4 linked regions of the Homo sapiens genome follow. The protein of the gene in region 1 purifies or fractionates together with the protein of each later gene. This does not show direct contact. Each region holds a gene or a part of one and is shown on either strand. Other genes may lie near its edges.

What was found. Proteins that work in one complex are often made in the same cells at the same time.
Region 2: the proteins of NR2E1 (region 1) and TNRC6C purify together in Homo sapiens (affinity purification with mass spectrometry; 3 studies listed by BioGRID and IntAct, with this or other methods). This does not show direct contact.
Region 3: the proteins of NR2E1 (region 1) and POLR1F purify together in Homo sapiens (affinity purification with mass spectrometry, with the first as the bait; one large-scale study listed by BioGRID). This does not show direct contact.
Region 4: the proteins of NR2E1 (region 1) and SUFU purify together in Homo sapiens (affinity purification with mass spectrometry; 3 studies listed by BioGRID and IntAct, with this or other methods). This does not show direct contact.

Annotation. Positions count from the first base shown.
Region 1 is NC_000006.12:108,171,916-108,177,023, reverse strand, and holds part of NR2E1 (nuclear receptor subfamily 2 group E member 1), read right to left. Parts: intron 2,189-5,108; coding exon 2,101-2,188; intron 522-2,100; coding exon 286-521; intron 1-285. UniProt on the Homo sapiens protein: Orphan receptor that binds DNA as a monomer to hormone response elements (HRE) containing an extended core motif half-site sequence 5'-AAGGTCA-3' in which the 5' flanking nucleotides participate in determining receptor specificity.
Region 2 is NC_000017.11:78,087,513-78,092,013, reverse strand, and holds part of TNRC6C (trinucleotide repeat-containing gene 6C protein), read right to left. Parts: intron 575-4,501; coding exon 407-574; intron 1-406. UniProt on the Homo sapiens protein: Plays a role in RNA-mediated gene silencing by micro-RNAs (miRNAs). Required for miRNA-dependent translational repression of complementary mRNAs by argonaute family proteins.
Region 3 is NC_000007.14:19,705,427-19,710,470, forward strand, and holds the start of POLR1F (DNA-directed RNA polymerase I subunit RPA43), read right to left. Parts: upstream 3,612-5,044; 5' UTR 3,591-3,611; coding exon 3,337-3,590; intron 11-3,336; exon of another isoform or gene 1-10. UniProt on the Homo sapiens protein: Component of RNA polymerase I (Pol I), a DNA-dependent RNA polymerase which synthesizes ribosomal RNA precursors using the four ribonucleoside triphosphates as substrates.
Region 4 is NC_000010.11:102,629,282-102,633,782, reverse strand, and holds the end of SUFU (suppressor of fused homolog), read right to left. Parts: intron 3,718-4,501; coding exon 3,628-3,717; 3' UTR 248-3,627; downstream 1-247. UniProt on the Homo sapiens protein: Negative regulator in the hedgehog/smoothened signaling pathway. Down-regulates GLI1-mediated transactivation of target genes. Down-regulates GLI2-mediated transactivation of target genes. Part of a corepressor complex that acts on DNA-bound GLI1.

The DNA.
Region 1 (5,108 bases):
CCTGGCCTCCACCCCAAACTTGCTGAAATGAAATTTCTGGGGGGATAAGATCCGGAGTGCACACTTGTAGCCACTCGGAGGTTGACTCTACTGTACACTCAAGTTTGAGCACCCCTGGCTGAACAAGGGAGAGCAGAAGGGCTGGAGCTCCATGCAGAGACCCGCCAAGCACCCTGGAGTTCTCTCCCCAGTTTGCCTGACCCCAATCACACAGCTCAGAAGAACTGGGTGCGTCCCTCTCCATTCGCTGGCACGAGTCTCTTTGGGCCCAGCAAGGCCGCTGACCTTGGGCGTGGGCTGAGCCAGGCTCACGAGGGTCTGCCGCTCTGGAGTGGTGGACACCGCGGCCAGCTCCAGGCCGTGCGGCTCCAGCTGCGTGACCGCGGTGAAGAAGGCCGGCGCAGGGAGCGCCGCCGAGGGAAAGTGCGCGGCGGCCCCGTTCTCCTCCTTGTGTCCACGGAAGTAGAGGGCCACTTGCTTGCGGATGGTGGACGTCCGAGGCCCCCGCTCGTGCTGCACGGCTGCAGAGGCAAACAGAGAAACGCATGCCGGCGATTAGAGACGTCGAGACACAGCCGCTGCGGCTCTCCCCCCAGCCCCGCCCCAATGTCAAGTCTGGGCGGGCAAAATCGCCCAAGAGGTGAAAAGAAGAAGGGAGAGGGAATCTGAGGGAGGAAGGGATTCTGAGATCGTCTAACCACTACACTGAATAGATTCGGAAGCTGAGGCTTAGAAGAGGGGCCCGTGCTCAAAGTGCCACGATAATGGCAGAGCCTCAAGTAAGACCAGGTGTGTTCTCCTTCGGTCCAGGGCTCCTCCCCACCAGGGAAGGGGGTTCGCAGGGAAACCAGAGACCCTCTGGGCTGGAGTAGCCAGGTATCCTCGCCCCCATCCAAAAGAGAGGGAGCGTCGCGCACGCCAGACACCTCGTTTCTGCGCAGACTTTTCCAGCTCCGTCCAAGAACAAGCCTCCCTACCCGCAGGCCCCGCCCCCACAGAAATAGCTTTTGGCCTCCGAGGGCCGCAGGAGGAAAGGACCCGAGCCCCGGGATTGCTAGGGAATGGAACGAGGGAGAACCCGTCTCCGAGTATGCTGGAGAAAGGCAGGGGAGATGTGACAATTACCACCAACAGTTTAAACAAACAAATTAATTCAGGGCAATCTTCGGCCTGCCGAGCTTGACAACTTGTCAATACACAAGTTCAACAGGTTGGACGCTCCCTCCGGCTTCCTGCGCCGCAGAGGAAGGGGCTCTCTCTCCTCCTGGAGCTGCCACCCGGCCCGGGCCGCCTCACAGCAAAACCCACTCGCACCCTGTTCCCAGGCCCCACGGTGTCCTCCAGCCCATTACCCTCGCCCCCTGCCTGGGCCTGGGGCGCCCTCGACAGGCTGCAGCGGGGGACGCAGCTCGGACCGTGCTCCAGGCCCAGGAAGCACTCTGACGTCCTGGTTCTTGCTGTTGCGCGCTTAAGAGCCTTGGGAGAGCTGGGTGTCCGAGGCACCCACGGGCGTTACCCTGCCTCTCCAGCCCCCTTTCCCTCTTTTCTGTAGAACAGAGAGAAGGCCCTGGACTCACATCGGCCCAATGGCCGTACTGATTTTGGCATCTTGGAGAATTTGCACACGGGCTGGAAATTCCGCGTTTTCGCGTCTCTGCCCTCCCTTTTTCAACACACCGCGAACTTCCAGCCTGTATGATCTCCTCCCCGTGAGACTATCCAGATTTTAAGATCCTGGGGCAGGCTAGCAGGCTTAAGGGTGGCCACGAAGGGCTGCAAAGAGGGATTAGGACCGGAGGCAGAAAATGCGCGCCGGTCCCCTGGAGAGTGGGGTCCCCCCAAGCGCTGCCTGTGTGGAGATGACTGTGGGGCGCAAGTTCCTGATGTGGGCATGGGTCTTGCCCTGGGGAATTCTAGGGGTCGCCAGCGGCTCCTGCTGAAAGACGGGAAGGATACGACTGAAAGCCCGAGGCCAATTCCCAGCATCTGGAAAGAAGCGCTCCGGGGTTGATTTACATGCATAGGAGTGCCATGTATTTTCTGTACATATAATTTACTTACTACTCAATCAACATTGGAATAAAGGGATGCACTGATTACCGTCTTTGTTCATGTTGACTTCCAAACACTTCTTCAGCCGACACGCCCTGCACTGGTTTCTGTGCGTCTTGTCCACCGGACAGCCTCCCTGGAACAGAGAGCAGGAGGTCAGCGGTCCCCAGGGCCTTTAGGCTGGAGACCCGGAGCCGGCACCCGGGCGGGGAAACGGTGTGGAGGCGCGACCTTGCCCGGCCGCAGGCCCTGGAGCCCCGAGCCTGGGCCTGCAAAACGCGAGGGCCTTGGGCATGAGCAGGGCCAGATCGAGAAGGGGCTGGGACGTCCCAGGCTACTTCAAGAGGGCCAGTCCCGGACCCCAAGAAAGCGGACAAGGGGGAAACGTCCTTCTCCAAGCAGGTGAAGCTTAGAGAGCCGGGTTTGGCAGACCCCGCAGGCCTGCGGGGCTCTCGCTAGGGGAACTTCCGCCAGTCGCGGAGTGGTGGAACAGGGACGAGACTTCAGGACCGAAGACAGCGACTTGGCCCCAGAGAAAGAGGCCACTAAGTTCCTTCCGTTAAGAGCTGGCTTTTGGGTCAGGATTCACACCATACCGCCCTCCCACCAACGATTCTTTCTGCTTTCAGTACTTGAGTCTACCTCTTTCTGCCACTTTCTGGGAGAGCCCGTTTATCTATCAGATAAATCTCTCCCATTTATTCTTCACTCTCCTATTACCTCACTTTTGCTTTTGTATGAAGCCAACCTTATTATCAGCAAGTTGAGAGTTGCCTTAAAGACTAGCCTCGGCCCAGGTGCATAGAAACACAGCCCTTCCTGGAAGGTGAGAGTTTAGGAGGGCAAGGCCTAGAGAAGATGAGGGTGAAAAAGGAAGAGCTCAAGTCTTGAGCAAAATATAGAAATGCTCACCATGTAAACAGGACCAGGAAGGTAATGTGATGGACTGTCAGACTAAATGATAATATGGGCTCAGACTGTTAGCATAGTAACTGAAAAAATAAAGGTAGTCACTTCTTTAGAAATATTTATCTGAGATGCATGAGAAATTAGATGTTTACCTAATGCAATTTTCTGTAAAAACATTAGCCATTGAAAGAGGAAATCTACAGATAAAGTTTCCTTTGGAATTTATTCAGTGTTAGATGTCATTACCGAGGGGACATATGCATAGATACATAAAGAGTCATGTGCATGAGTTTTATACACAGAAAATATTTAAGACATTGTGTGCTCTCCTATATTTATAGAAGTTGCTACTGTTAGATTTGTAGTGAGAAGAAAGATAATAAATGTATTTTTATTTTGCTTCATAATCTCAAAAATTCATATACTCTGGAGTTGGAGTAAGTATGTTTTTCTTCCCCCTGAAGCCCTTTAGGGGAAAATTACACATTCGAATGCAGTTTTATGAGTTCACACTTCTCCAATTTAAATTATGATGATTTATTTAAAATAAAGGTGGGACAGATGTTCATATCCATTTCTAAATGTCCTCATTACTGTTAATAATAAATTGGAATATAATTTAATCCTAGAATAAGAGAGAAAGGAGATAATTTTTGGGTCCAAAGTGAATTATTTAGGGCATCTTTGCTGGCCAATGTAATAGTTCATTGTAAACAGGTTTTTTAAAACTTGTTATTAAATGTAATTATATATCTATCCTCAGATGGTATCTTTCCAGTATTCTTATAAGTATGCAAATGCAAAATGGAAACCTTCATAAGTTCTTAAGTGTGTCTTCAAATCAGATCAAATGTATATAAATATCTAGCGCCAGAGAGAAGGATAAACGCCTCAGCTCTGATCATTTACTCTCCTTGCAAGAAGAACACCAGGCCTGATGAGTCTATTATCAGTCCTTTACAAGCACTTGGACTGATATCAATATGCTTGAATTGATAGCCATCCCCTTCTAAAAGATCAAGCACAACATCAGAGATCTTGATTTTCCAATTCTGTTCACTGCATAAAAGCAAAAGACAATCTAAGTAGAAGTTGGTTCAAATCTGACAACCCGCAGTAATCGCACAATCCTGTGGAGTTATTGGGATACAGTCCTATGCGTGTAAAATGTGATGTGTCCATATGGTGAAGCTAGAAACTGATACAGTAGCCAATTAAACAGGTAACAGGGCTAGAGAGCTCAAAATTTATCTCAATGCAAATATCTTCTGTTTTTGTGGTTAATCCAAAACTATTAGAAAACAATATGAGCAGACATGACTTCAGAAAAAGATGTCAGAACAATTCACTAGCAGCAGACAATATATGCATGTGTATACATGTACCCTATATATATCAATTAGTGAAAAGTGTTTTACTATTTTGTTACCAAAGGATGACTGCTGACTAATGCACCCTCAGGGATCTTTCCACAAGTGAAATGGAGGACTCTGTACTGAGGGTCTGAGTCGCTGATAAGGAGAGGGCAAAGTGTAGGACCAGAAGGTTGATCTCCTTAGTTAAAATCAGCCTATTATTGAGCTGGAAACTGAGTCAAGAGGTTCTGCTCACTCTTTCTAGAAGCTTTGGCTCATATTCAGCCCATGCCAGATTCCTCTGTCTCTTTGAGACAGTTCTGCCTACTCAAGACCAAAACAACCGACTGGGCCCAAATTCTAAGCAGAGAAGGAGGACAGGGATATGGAAGCTTGAGGAGGGTCCCAGTTGCACCTTCCTTTTGAATCTTCTCTTCTTCCTCACCCTGCCCTTTTCTGACAAGGCATAGCTAAGGTCACATGGGTGCTGGATTCCCACTGCCCACTTCCAGAGCAGCCCTGCTTCTCCAGAGTTGAAAATGCACAACCCTTCAGAAAGCACGGCCTCTCTTCCAAGTGGCTAGCACTCACTTGGTGGTCTCAGCTAAAGGTGGTGGTGACCTTGACTCAGATGTCTGTGTGCCGCTTACTTCTGCATCCCAGGCAAGTGATCAGGGGACTGAGCTTGATGCTGCTAGGAGTGAGTGTGGGGTGGGCAGGCACAATAACAAAGCTCTTTCTCCTGCTTGCTACTTGTGGTTTAGATGCTAAATTCTTTAGGTCCCTTGGGCC
Region 2 (4,501 bases), on another chromosome or scaffold:
ACAGAAATGCACCCTAGTATTTACAGCTGCAGTTCCCATACATACTGTATATTTGATTTTCTATTTATGTTTTACCATTTTATTGAAAACATTTCAGCAGACTCAAGTTTTTGTTGATGAATATAGATACATAAAAAAAGTACACAGGCTATGACCTAGATTCTTTGCTGCTCTGGGGTTTTCAAATTATTTCTAAGTTTGTAGCTAAGATCTAATGGTTGGGTTTTAAGAAGTTTGATCAGTGACTAGCTGAGATCTTATATGCACTATAATGGAATGGGTTATTTTAAATCCAACTTTCAGTGCTCAATTCTTAGAAAAGTATAGAATGGCCATGCTATACAACAGGACGATCGATTAATAAGCCAGCAGTGATCCCACCACAGGCATCCTAGCTCAGACGTACCATGCTTGCTAGGGTTCTGCTCCAGGGGGGAAGCGGCACTGGGCAAGTTATCCATGGAGTTGGGGTGCGTCCACTGGGGGAGGCGTGACTGGGACTGGGATGGGTCCTTCACCGACAAGCCACCGGTCATGTCCATGCTGTTGACATTCATGTTTGGGTTCAGTCCAGCTAAAGAGAGAGATGCGGTTAGGATTCGCCTGCTCCTCTAAATGACTTCATTCTAAAGCTCTCCTATAGAAGCTATTTCAGTCTTCGCTTACAGCAAATTTTTTTTTTTTTTTGAGACGGAGTCTTGCTCTTGATGCCCAGGCTGGAGTGCAATGGCACAATCTTGGCTCATTGCAACCTCCGCCTCCCAGGTTCAAGCGATTCTCCTGCCTCAGCCTCCCAAGTAGCTGGGATACAGCAAAATATTTTAACTATAACTTTTAGTGCTGGTGAAAAAATACTACTTATCGTCATAACAACATGTATTTCTAGGAATATTATTCCTAAATTAAGGTGAAAATGTGAATAGTCTTTGATTAAGTAAGGCCCACAATTCTCTTCATTTTACTTGTTTCAGTGCTGAATAAACATGGTCCTGAGGCTTCTCAGAGTCCACAGGAAAATAGAAAAAGTCCAAACTATTAGGAAAATCTTTCTTTGTTTTGGGATATCTTACGGAAACTCATCAGGTCAAAAACACTTTTCCAGAACTCTAAAGTACCACCTATGAAACAGACTGATAGGATAATTCAGTTCTACCTTTAGTGAGTTTCCTTTACAAAAGTCTGCTCTGAAAGAGTCTGTGAATTAAGTATCAAACTACTTTTAAGGAACTGAACTATTTGACAGCGGGGGTGCTGCCATCTGCCCCCAGCTGGGATGGTGAGCTGAGGCTTCTGGGCTCATTCCTTATAGCTAAAAGCAGGTACCTGGTTATTTGTCCAGGACCTGCACTAAGCTAGGTTAATAAAGAAAGATGATGAGGAGGACAATGAAAAGAAGGTTGAAGTAAAGAGTTTCTGATGAGGACACTAGTTTGGAGCAGGACAGACTGCTTGTTTGGAAGGGAATAACCAGCACAAGCGCCCCCCTCCCCTTGTATTTCCAGCTGCAGTTCCCCTTACCACATACACATACCCCATAGGTCCTTACCGTAAGTACTACGCCACACGGTACGTAAGCACAGTGAGCCTCTACTACTTAGCCAGGTGCTGAACATTCTGGTTCTTACCTTTATTTCAGAGGCTGCAAATTCAAATGCCCATAGGAGCCAGGTGGGCCATGCACATGAAGAAGTGGGCTTCATGGGGACTGTGGCAAACCAGAGAGTGTCTGTCCTGTCTAAATAAACAGGTGCTACTGGGGCCAACCACCTATTGCTACCTGGAACATAGACCCACTATAGCCATTTTTAAGAGAAGCCAGAAGCCACTTTCCCCAATTTTTGAATGTTGGCATTAACACACACCTATGCACATGCACACACACACTTCGCAGACCTAACAAAACGCCTTTGCAAGCCCATCAGTGCCACAGGGCTGCCTACTTGCAATCTCTGCTGTGTGGGTTCTTTTCGTTTCAGCTTGTACAGATCTAGCCAGGTAAGGTGGCAACAATGTCAGGGCTTCAACCTGGCCTTCAGAATGCTCCAAATTTCACAATTTGGCGCCAACCCATCTCTCCCAACTTTCCCCTCTGGGAAAGTCAGCTAGACTGGCCTGGCCCTTGCAAAATGGGCCCCTGAAACAAGCCAGGCCTCTTTCTTCTGTGCTACGTGAGGCTTCCCCTTTATTTGGAAAGGCTTCCTCTTTATTTACTGTAATCCTATCCAATCATTTGAGGTTCAAGCTTAATCCTACTCTCTGATTTTTCTTTCACCACTCAAAGTGAAAGTGAACTTTTCCTTCTCTAGAGCCCTGTAAGAATCACATGACACTGGTATCAAGGTTATTTTTTCCCATTTATATGCCTGCTCTTCCTATCTAGATGGCGAACTCCAGGTGGCAAAAGACTGAGAATAACAACGACAGGCTGAACATGAGGGAAGGAAGGTAGCTAGGAGCCCCCACTACTGACCATGGGCTGCTGGTTTCTTTACATGAATTGATGAGTGTCTAACAGGCTCTTCAACATAGGTGCTGCTGCAGAGAAATGCTGAGAGCCAACAAGATAGGCAATTTTACAACCAAAGTTTCCTAGACTTTATTAGTTATTTGCTTTTAATACATTTATAACTTTACTGTGAATATTATAAAATATTATCCAAATTATTTTTCAACTAATTTCAAAGATTCACTGCATGAATTCTTTAACTTGTACTAAGAGAAAAAATCCTTAAGAGTAAAGATAAGTGGTCGGGCACGGTGGCTCACGCCTGTAATCCCAACACTTTGGGAGGCTTAGGTGAGCGGATCACTTGAGGTCAGGAGTTTGAGACCAGCCTGGCCAACATGGTGAAACCCAGTCTCTACTAAAAATACAAAAATTAGCCAGGCGTGGTGATGCATGCCTGTAATCCCATCAATTTGGGAGGCTGAGGCAGGAGAATTGCTTGAATCCAGAAGGTGGAGGTTGCAGTGAGCCGAGACTGCGCCATCGCACTCCAGCCTGGGCAACAGAGCAAGACTCTATCTCAAAAAAAAAAAAAAAAAAAAAAAAAAGTAACGATAAGTGTACTTTATCCTCCAAATATAGGTTAAGAAGACAGGTGAATAATAGAAAGCTGAAGCTAATGCATTTTAGGATAATAGGTGGGATGAAATTTGTTTCTAAAACAGAAGCACTTACATAAGTAGCTGACATTTTACAAAGTGTTTGCTATGTGCTAGGCACTATTTAAGAACTTTACATATTAGGCCAGGTGTGATGGCTCATGCCTGTAATCACAGCACTTTGGGAAGCTGAGACCAGCAGGATCACTTAAGGCCAGGAGTTTGAGGCTGCAATGAGCTATGATCACGCCACTGCACTCCAGCCAAAAAAAAAAAGAGAGAGAAAAAAAAAAGAAAAAAGAGAACTTTACATATTAGCTCATTTAATCTTTAAAACAAACCTAGGAGTTAAGTATTTCCACATTACAGATGAAGAAATTAAGGCATGGCTCAGTATGGTGTCTCAGGCCTGTAATCCTAACACTTAGGGAGGATCACTTGAGGCCAGGAGTTTTGAGACTTGCCTGGGCAACATAGAAAGACCCTGTCTCTACCAAAAAAAAAAGAAAGAAAAATAAAGAAATTGAAGCAAACAGCAGCTAGGCAAGTTGCCCAAGTTAGTAGTGAGCCTCTTGGTGGTGAGTTGGGACTCAAACCTAGGGAGTCTAATTCCTAAGTCAGGTCTTACCTACTTCGACACAAAGGGCTCTAATGGATGAGACAATAATTAAGGAACGAGATCATCTAGTCTAGTATTTATCAATCTCATATTAAAGATATACCACATTTATAATATGTCAAGTAAAAAGGATTCATATGATTACAATATACCGCTCTTTTCAGAGACATTGAATAGAATTAGATAAATGAATATTATCTGCTGGCAGCAAATTCACTACCACTCAACTGGCCTTTGCCCCTTTACAGATGTATTTTCCAAGTTACCGATAACCCTTTGTCCTGTATCTACAGACTCTAATAGCAATCAACAGACAAGCCTAAAGTGCTTTCACTAACTTCTGAATTCTTACGGCAAATTAGTCCATGCAGAATCAATTTACTAATTTATACCCTCTGGTGTCTTCAGGTATGTGAGCTGTGTCTCTCCTGACTGGCCTGACCTCGAGGCCTGGCACCATGTCTTCTACTGACCTGCGGGTTTCAAGTGCTGAGTGTGCTTCTACAAGTTAGATTTCAACATATATATGTTGATTTGGTCGATTATACAAATCACATTTCATACAAAATGAGTTGTATCAACAACCACTGCTTTTTAAGAAGTGCTTTTAATGTAAATCTGAATACTTTTACTGACCAAACCATTATAAAGTCTTCTCTGTGGTTTAGGCTGGAGGACAGTGGCTGGTAAAGTACAGTTCAGAGTAGACTAGGAACAGAACAAACTTTGGAGATTTGACAATGGAAATGAGATTTTGGGGGCTCTGACTGGTACTAC
Region 3 (5,044 bases), on another chromosome or scaffold:
GGGACTTAGCAAAGAAAATGTGTATCTCTGTGGACATGACTGAATAAGAGGCAATTTTGGTATTATTCACCATTACTGAATTTCAGTACTTGACGGCGTATAACAAGGGAAGCATTACGGTTAAAGCTGAAGCCCCTGAATTTTAAAGTCAATGACTTAATAGAGAAAATCCCAAACTTCAACTGTTGATAGTAAATGCAAATGTTAATACAACTACATTATTTAGGAACTGACTGACACTTTAGTCTACAAATGTAACAGTCATGATTAAGGGACAACTATTTTTCAAACTGTTATTTCTTAGCTTTTAAGGAATTATAACTATTAAGGAGAAAGACCTAGTGGTGGGAGGCGGAGGGTGTGGTGAGCTGAGATCTCAGCACTGCACTCCAGCCTGAGCGACAGAGGGAGACTCCATCTCAAACAAAGGAACAAAAAACAACAAAACAAACAAAACCTGGTGGCTTCATTACCACACCCACTACTTGTTGGAGAAAACTTCCCTGACTCCCCCAGGCAAAGCTGAAATCATTCCTCTACTCCTATAGGCCAACTTTCTCACTGTTCTTAATCTAATTGTATTGAACCTATCTGTATATATGTTTGAATTTCACACATGACTCTAAGGCCTTTGATAGCAAAGAATATTTTTTGTTGAACTCAAACTTCTAACAATTCACATAAAATAAGGGAAAGAATTTATCCCTAACAGATGTTGTTTAGTAAAACAGCCAGAAGCCACAGAAAATACACTTTAAGAATTACCAAATTAGGAAAACCCTAACTCAGAGACTTACTCGGGAAAGCAATTTTCTGAGGTTTTAATTTCCGCATGTGGCATTCCTAAGCTGGAATCATCCTATCACTAAGACAATGTTAGGGACACAGAAAACAGAGAATAGGAAGAAAAATTAACTGCCATACTAGACAGAAAAACAAATTATCAAGACTTTATTTCCGCTAATCAAAGCCTTGTCTCTCAAGTATCAGAGTGATTCTCAAGGGGAAGGAGGGCTGTGGTCCCCTGGTGGAAGGGGGGACATGTGGAAATTTGTGATACTAGTCATGGTTATCACAAACTTTGCAGAAGCCAGGGAAGAAAAGAGTCTGTCATGTACAGGACAGTCTGATACAATGAGGAAATGTCCTTCGCTCTGACTTTTGAATAAAAGGACAAATCTATTTACAAATAGCTAGGCACCTAATTTAACTCTTAAAACACATCAACACAAAGTCATCTTTGCACAGTTTTAATATATATTAAAATTTTCAGGAACTTAGCAGTATATAAATTCAAGGGGGATTTTGTTAAAAGTCATCAGATATGTGAACACAGGCACCCAACACTATATACTTTTTCCTCCTTCACTTTTGTTTTTCAGATACCATCCTAAATAGGTATCAGGGCAAGGTGGTAGCCTCACTTCAGTTCTTTAATACTATATGTTCAATGTTTTGTCCCTTATTAGTAATGCATAGTTCAAAGTGTGGTGCCTGATTTGCACTTGAATAAACAGCATACCCAAGTAATATGGAAGGAGTGGTGTCCAGATCTGTTCAGAGCCACTCTGCGTGATTTCCCCCTCTAGCCTGTCAAGTGCAGGCAGTACTGGTTACAGAAAACAAGATAGTTGCTTGTGTTTCCAAATGTTATGACTACTTTGTATATCCTTTAATTTCTCAAATCCATCCTCTCTAATCATTTTCTCTTGGACAATTATAACATTATCTTAATTCCTCTCCTTGTCCACTTTCTCATCCTATTTGGTAGCTAACCATTAAGTAAATGTTGTTTCTTAAACTGCAAATCTGATATGCCAGGGACTGCAGAGAAGTACTAGTTTCTCAAAAGTGTGCCAAGTCTCAGCGTTAAAGGGACTGAGAGGACGGAGCACTAACCCTGCTTAAGAAAACAGAAACACAAAAGGAAAAACAACAACAACCCCACCTTACCCCCAAAATAACAAAAACTGGCAATGGCAGGAAGGGAAAAGCAAAATGGCCATCCTCTCTGAGTCATCTTTGACCCCCTGCCCTCCTCTCCAATGGCATCCAATGCCTTTCCCCTGACATAAACCTTATTCTACTTATATAATAGATACAGTTCTCTGGGCAAAGCATACCAGTTCACATCCAGTATCCGTTTGTTTATGCCACTCTCTTTGCCTGGAATGTTACCATGTTAAAGTACCCTCTTCAATCAAGTTGTTCTCAAAGGTCCCAAGATCCAAATTCTACACTCCTTATCTTATTAGATTTCTGTCAAATTTTAACACTTTACTATTTATTGGCTTGTATTTGTATCTCTCCTACAGCTTAAAGCTCCTTGAAACAGAGATTTTATTTTTTGTTTTTGTATCTCAAGTGTTCGGTATGTAATATAAACATACAAGAAGTGTATATTGGTGCTTGGAAGAATCTGCAGATTCTAGACATGGGTGGAGGTCCAGGATCCCTTAAGAAACTGATAAAAACTTCCGATGCAGTGCCCAAGGAACTTCACATAGGAATTCCTGAAGGGCAATCATGAATCCCTAGAGAATCCATTCCCTCTAGTTTTAGAACCCCGCTTTTAAACCAAAGTATAGTCCAGAGGAATACTCAAGCACATGCCCGCGCCCCCCGCCCCACACCTCTGTAATTCTAAGTTTTCAAGTCACTTTTGAATACCGTAATATAAATGCATACGTTTTGGTTTTTTCTCTCCCCAAAGCAACAGGCTCACTAGTTCGACTGAATAAATCTTCTTAAAAACAACAAAATCCCGCTAAACTAATGGCATTTTCATAATCCCCAGATCAGGTCCAAGAGAAGAGAAAATGGGGAAATTACCAGAGCGAAATCCAACAACAAAAAAGGTCCTTCATGTTTTACAAATAGAACGGTTGTACTAATGCTTCGTATGCTATCTTCTATGGAATGAGAATCTACTCAAGCACTGCAAACCAGATTTTTATCGTCAAATGAGAAAGCATCATCCGTAAGGGGATAAATGAAACGTTGAATGCCAAACAGAACTGGGCCTACTAGGTCTCCAGATCCCTGGTCTTTTCCTACCCCTACACCAGGGTTCTGGAGCAAGAATCTCCACTCCCTCCGCCCACACCTGAACTTCATCTTTAAGTTTTCTTCTCTATCTATGAAAGGGACCCTGTATAGATCTTTACCAGAGCGGTACTGGCCTTGAGGGACGGATCGCGACTCTAGAAATCCAGGGGGCTAAGCTCTGGGGGGCAATGCGACCTTTGCCATTTGCCCCTTTCTGCTGCGTCGTCAGCACATCCACCTGCTTTACTTCCCGTGCACAAAAGAAGGAACAGGCAAAGAGATCGGTACCTCTCAGAATAGCGAAGGAGCTCCGCATCAAGCTGTTCTCGAATGCCGGTGCGTTTCCTGTTAAGGTAGCGGGGCGACAGCGCGATGTGCCTTTGGTGCGGCCCGGCCACCAGGCATGAGTAGCGACTGTTCACCAGCGCACAAGCAGCGGCATAAGTCGGCAACTCTAGGCAAGGCAGGACGCCAGCCTGCCCTACCAGAGACCCATCAGAAGCCGCCGCTGGCCGCGGCGCCTCTGAGCAACCTGCAGCCATGCTGCTTGTCAAGGTTCCCACGGCGCGCGCCGTTGACGCAAGCACAATCCCATGTCCCCGGCGCTCGTTTTACGCCATCCACCAACGACCACGCCCCTAGGAATTTCCCCTCTTTTCGCTGCATTACGCAGCCCTGACCAGCAGGGGGAACCGCGTTTTCGCGCTTCGAGAACGGGAGCTTAGAGCCTCGGAAATGCATTGAGCACGCAGGAAAGCCAACCGACTGCTCTTTTAAGGGCAGGCAAATGTGTGTTTTCGCACAGAGGCTTATTGGATTAAGTAGGTAGCTTAAAAATGGGGGTTCTCACTTTGATCATTTCCAGTAGTGAGGTGGGTTTGGTAGAATTTTACAGGCTTGGACTGTACAATAAAAAATCAAAATATTTATGGAGTATATTTTATGCAGTACACGGAATCCTAAGCAGGCCTGATAATTGTAATGCAACGCATCTGAAAACGAACCCACTAGTTCTCTCCTGTCCCGCTTCTCTTCTCATTATGCAACTGCTAAATCAGGGAATCATACAGCCAAGCTGTCAGCCTCGGATCCTCTTTTGTATCCCCAAGTATCAAATCAGCCTGAAGACCTGTATTGCCCAAAGTGGAAATATCATTCTATTTGGACACTATTCTCTTTCCCTGCCGCCAAAACCGCAGGACTCCCTGCCTGTGGAAGCCTAGCTCAATGGTCAGGAGGACACTCTGGGGCAGCCAGATCTTCCCTGAAATACATATGATCGTGTTGTGCCCTGTTTAAGCCCTACATAGGCACCCCATTTTCTCTAGGACAACACAAACTCATGAAAATGGCTTATAAGTTACAAGGCCATTTTGTGATCTGCGTGGGCACACAGCCTCTCTCTTCAGCTTCATTTGTCACACTCCCCACCCTAATATTATCATGCTGCTTGATCTACTTTCAGGTCTCTCTTTGTGCAGTCTCACGCTGTTCCTTCCACCAGGGAATATAATAGCATTTTTCACAAGGGTAAATTCTACTCATGTATGAATTTCTAGCTTAGATTTTACATTCTATACCTTTGCAAAGAGTTTTCAAGCACCCCACTCCTCTTTCTCTATAAGGATTAGGTAGTTACCCATCTATGTTGGTTTTTATGTTAATTTTTTATTAACTGTCTTTGCTTGCCTGTTCCATCAATAGATTCCTACACTCACTAAAGTGGGGACCATAATATCTGTATTGTTCACTACAGTAGCCCCCCACAATTTATCCCTCCTCCAAAGAAACGAAACCAAGAAAAACCCAACCAATACATCTTGAATGAATAACCTGATAGTGAGTTAATAAATAATAAGTGATAAAGAGCTCACAGCCTAAGTGGAAGTGGGATCTAAACATAAACATATAACAGGTTATGCTGGATAAGTGCCAAGAGAAATGTATAGCAGTGATGTGAGTATTAACATACTCCCTCATCTCCTAAATACTGCAA
Region 4 (4,501 bases), on another chromosome or scaffold:
TAGAAGAGGGATGTAGTGGCAGGGAGAGGGTCTTTTCCCACCGCCTCATCTCCCCAGACTGCTCCTCGCTCCCACCCCCTTGACCTTAGAGGAATTCAGGACCAGTGAGGGAGAGCCTGTCCTTGCAAGGTCATTTCTTCAAGACTGAAGAGCCACCAGCTGTGTGATCCCACTCTCTGGCACCTCCTCCACTCTCGACAACAATCCTGGGGGCCTCCCTCCATCCTGGCTTCTAAGTGGCTAACAACAACCCACTCCCTCTGCCAGGGCCCCGGGCTTCCGGCTCCACTACTTCAGGCAGCCAGAAATGAGCACACAACCCAGGCACTTCTGCAAAGATGTTTAATGCACTTAGATTACAGAGAGGAAGAGGGGGCAAGAAGGAAACGACATCTAAGTGAGTCACCCAAAAATTCTTACAAAAGTCCCAGGCTGGCTGCAGCCCCAGGAACCGAGTCGCCACTGACATTAAAAACTAATATAAAATTTTACAAAAATCTGCTTGTCGCAGCATTCAGGTACTTGTACAAAAGGAGGGGTCTCCCTACAGGGCTCCTGACTTGTAACAGGGACCCAGGCACCTCACCTGGCATGGATGTCCTAGAAGCCAGAAAGGGAAGACCAGACACAAAAATACAGTAAAGGAAATTCTCTACTGGTCAGCCCCATAGGGGCACCGACCTTCAGGTTTTCTCCCTGCTTGCAACTCAATCCGAAACCCCAGTCCCAAGACCCTGTGTCTATTTTTAAAAATGCTCTAGCCCTTTTAGACTCTCCCCTTGGCTTCTCCAGTCCCTGCCTTGGAGCACTGCCCTTGGAAGAGAAAGATACGGGCAGGAAGAGGCACCAGCTCCCCACACAGGCCTGAGACCTCGCACAAGCCTCCCAAACCCCCCTCAGAATTGCAGCTGAGTCTGCAGTCCTCCTGCAGCCCACACTGAGCCAGCAGAGCCACAGGAGCCTGCCTTATATAGCAGGCAAAGAGGAAAGGGAAAGGCCCTTCTCAGAAGCTCTAGCACCAGGGACCTGGAGGGGTGGGTACAACTAGGCAAGTCTCCAAGTAGCTTGCAGAAGAGGCAGATTTAGGGAGGGAGGCCCCTTACCTCCTCCACCCACTACAAGGTCAGGGGCTCCCTCAGAGCTGCAGGGAGGGAAAGAAAGGGTACATTCACCAAGCATCCTGTGCCAGAAGCTGTGCTGGACAGGGTCCAAGGTCAGCTTGGCTTGATCTTCTTTAAGGGTCCTCTCTCACCAGCCAGCAGCCCAAGAAACCTCTGGGAGGCACCAATGCCCATAGGAAAGGAGGCCTGGTGAGAAATGTGTGATACCCTGTCCTGCCCTCAGAGCCAGTGAGATGGAGCCTGGCCCCTGCAGGATCTTGGGTGAGCGTGAGGCTCCTGACATATTGCAGGTACGAAGGGGCCACAGGCTTCATGTGCTCATCATCTCGGAGCTCACCCACTTCCTCCTGCCTTACCCTGCTCCCCCAGAACAGGGCCACCATGCTGGCTGGTGTCTACCTTCAGTCCACAAAGACCCTCCAGGTCTGGGGCAGGTTGCTGACCAGGTGCTTCACAAACTAATGACAAAGCTTAGCTCAGAAAATGCCCCATCCCCACCCAACCAACGATGGAGGCACCCAGCAGATGGAAGTACGGCGAACTGCAGCAGGGAGCCCTCAGGCAGGTCCCGAGCAAGAGAGAGTTCAGGGAGAGGCTGGTCATGGTGGCAAGGAATGGAGGCGAACTGATGGCACCTCTCTGCCTGTGAAATGTCAGAAACAAGAGCTTCACAGGCAGGGCTGCTGTGGTGGGGGAAGGCCAGTAGGGCTCCCTCTGGTAAGTCCTCAGGGCAGTAGAGGCACAGCTGCCGACATCAGGTCCCGAGTGGCTTGCATCTTGGCTGGCGGGGATCTGCAGCCAGTCTCTCCCAAATACTCCAGGCTGATATGCCTTTTAACTCTGAGCTTGATGGAATTAACCAGATAGCCCTGGGGATGTGTAGAGGAGGCCAGGCCTAGTGGCTCCATGGAGGTCCAACTCCTGCTCCCTGGAGAACCCAGCTGGTGCCCTCATACCCCTGGGGGCAGCTCTTTGGCTGGATCTCTCATCAGTGGAGTCCTGCACCCTGTGGGCACTCCTGTGGCATCCCTGCTGGTGCCTGTGTGTGCAGCAGAGGCAGATGGGAGCAATGAGGAGCCCTGCATTGTCATGACTTTGCTTTGAAGAGGTGTAAAGAGTGATCTTGAAGTATTGTAACAGTCCCATCCCTAGAGTTGGGGGTAAGAAGGCAGGAAAGGGGCTTGCTGGTTCCAGGTCAGGCGTGGGAGATAACCCGAGAGGAACTCCAAAACCATGGGCTAGAGATAGGCTGGCTTCTGGAAGGCAAACTGTGAGATCTGCAGTACTGGGGGTGAGGGGCTGAGGACCACGAGAGGCCAGGATGCCAGAAAGGAGAGGGATTAGGAGTGGAGAATGAAAGATAGGGCATGAATGGATACAGGGAGGATGGGAGGGCAGCAGAGAGCAGTGTTAGCAAAACCAAAGTGAAAGAGATGTTAAGAGGTGGATTTTTCAATTTTAGTAAGGCAGCCCTACAGCCTGAAGGCTGGGAGGCCCAGGGACTGAGGAAATGGGACAGGACTGGTTACAGAGCTGGAGACCCAGGCCCTGAATGACAGTGGGGATGGTGTGTGATGTGCTGAACCTCACCCTCTCCCAGGTAGGCCTGGTTGGGTGGAAAAGGCCTAGAAGATGAGGCTGGGGTCACCAAGTCTTTGAGACCCATTCACTTGGAAAACAGTAGCACCCCTCCCTGGCCCCAGCTAAACTAGGCTCAAAGCTGCACAAGGGAGTGTCTCTACTCTCCCCCTGCCCCGGGCTCCACCAGGCCCAGCTGGGAAGAAAAGCCTCTCTGTGCAGCCGGCTCCTCCAGGGCTCTGGGCTGGCAGGCGAACACCAAGCACCTTCTCTGGTGGCAGCCCAGGGAGAGATACAGCCCTAGGCCTCTGTCAGAGAATGCGAAAGTTCAACGGGGAATGAAGTTCTGTTTAAAAAACATTATATACATGGCTTCTGGACATCTTTGCAGAGCAATAAAATACCACCCGGTTTCTACAAAATAAAATAAGGAAGAAGAAAACCAAACATGATCAGAGGAATTGTTCCGCGGCCAGAGGAGCTTGAGTAGCAAAGGCTTCCAGAGATGAGCTGGGAAGTGCATCCACTCGCTCTGCATCTGGCTGTCCGCCTCCCTCCTGCTGGGCTGTGCGGCAGGGGGTAGGTGAGAAAGAGGGCTGTCTCCACCTAGGGGCACAGCCAGGGTCCAGAGTCAAACCTCAAACCAGAATCTGTGCAGGCTGCAGGCAGGGAGGGTCCGCATTTGCCCACTCACTGGCCTGATGGGTCACAAGGCTTAGCCAGCGGCGGGGTGCGGCCCCTGAGCTGGAGGTGAGGTGGAGGGCCTGTGGCCTGTGCATGGCACCCCACTGGGCTGCGGGGTGGCACTGCGCAGTCTTCCTCACACTTGTCCTTTTATTTGTGGAGATCTCGTTGACACAACTGTTACACTGGAAGTCACTGGGGAGCAGCTGGGCTCCCTGCTGGCCACTGCAGGGCCCAGCCCAGGCTAGTGTAGCGGACTGTCGAACACCACGTCAGGCAGGATGGAGACCTTCAGCTTCTTTTCAGGCCAGCTGTACTCTTTGGGAAGTTTGAACTGTGGAGGGAGCAAGCACAGACCAGGAGTGTGAGTGGTTAGCAGAATACACCGTGGTCTTTCCAGAGATTGCCCAGGCCTGTCCCCGGGGAGCTAGGGATAGGACAGGCCGCGGGAGGCGTGGCTTCATTCTCAAATGCTAGACCCAGGTGGCAGGCTGGGCTCAAACGGCTGGAGTTGGTGACCCCTTCTTTCCCCACGGCCTGTCAATAATGAGGCAGGTTGGAGGAGGGCGTTTTCTCCTCCTTTCTCCACTAAGCTGACCTCCCTCTTGCTCACTTCCTTGGTTCTGCCTCTGGCCACAGGCATGTAAAGAATCTGCTCCCTGAGGCCCTGGGGCTGGAGGATGGGGGCTGGGGGAGGGTCTGGAGGCTATGGGGAAGTGGCCTGAGCTCTGTCACTGCCATGGCCTCTCTTTCAGAGGCTAGTGCAGGAAGAACCCTGGAACCTGTCCTCTGTATACTTGGCCAAAGGCTCCAAAGGGAAGGAGGCCCCAGTTCGGCCCCAAAGTCAGAACCACACTTGCGGCCTTGGTGGGAGCAGAAGAGTGGGACAAGTGTGGTTTGAGGTGATCCCTTGGGCCTGAGAGGGGCCAATCCCCACCCTGCTCCCTGTATTCATTCGCACCACTTCCCAGGGTTACCAGCCTCAGAGTGGTCCCAGTGGTGGCCAAGGAGAGCCAAATGTCTCCCACCCCATCCCAGGATACACTGATTTGCCTACAGTTCTGTTTCTCCCATTCACCTGGGAGTTTCTGGTAGGGGAAGGGGAAGAGGCTGATGCC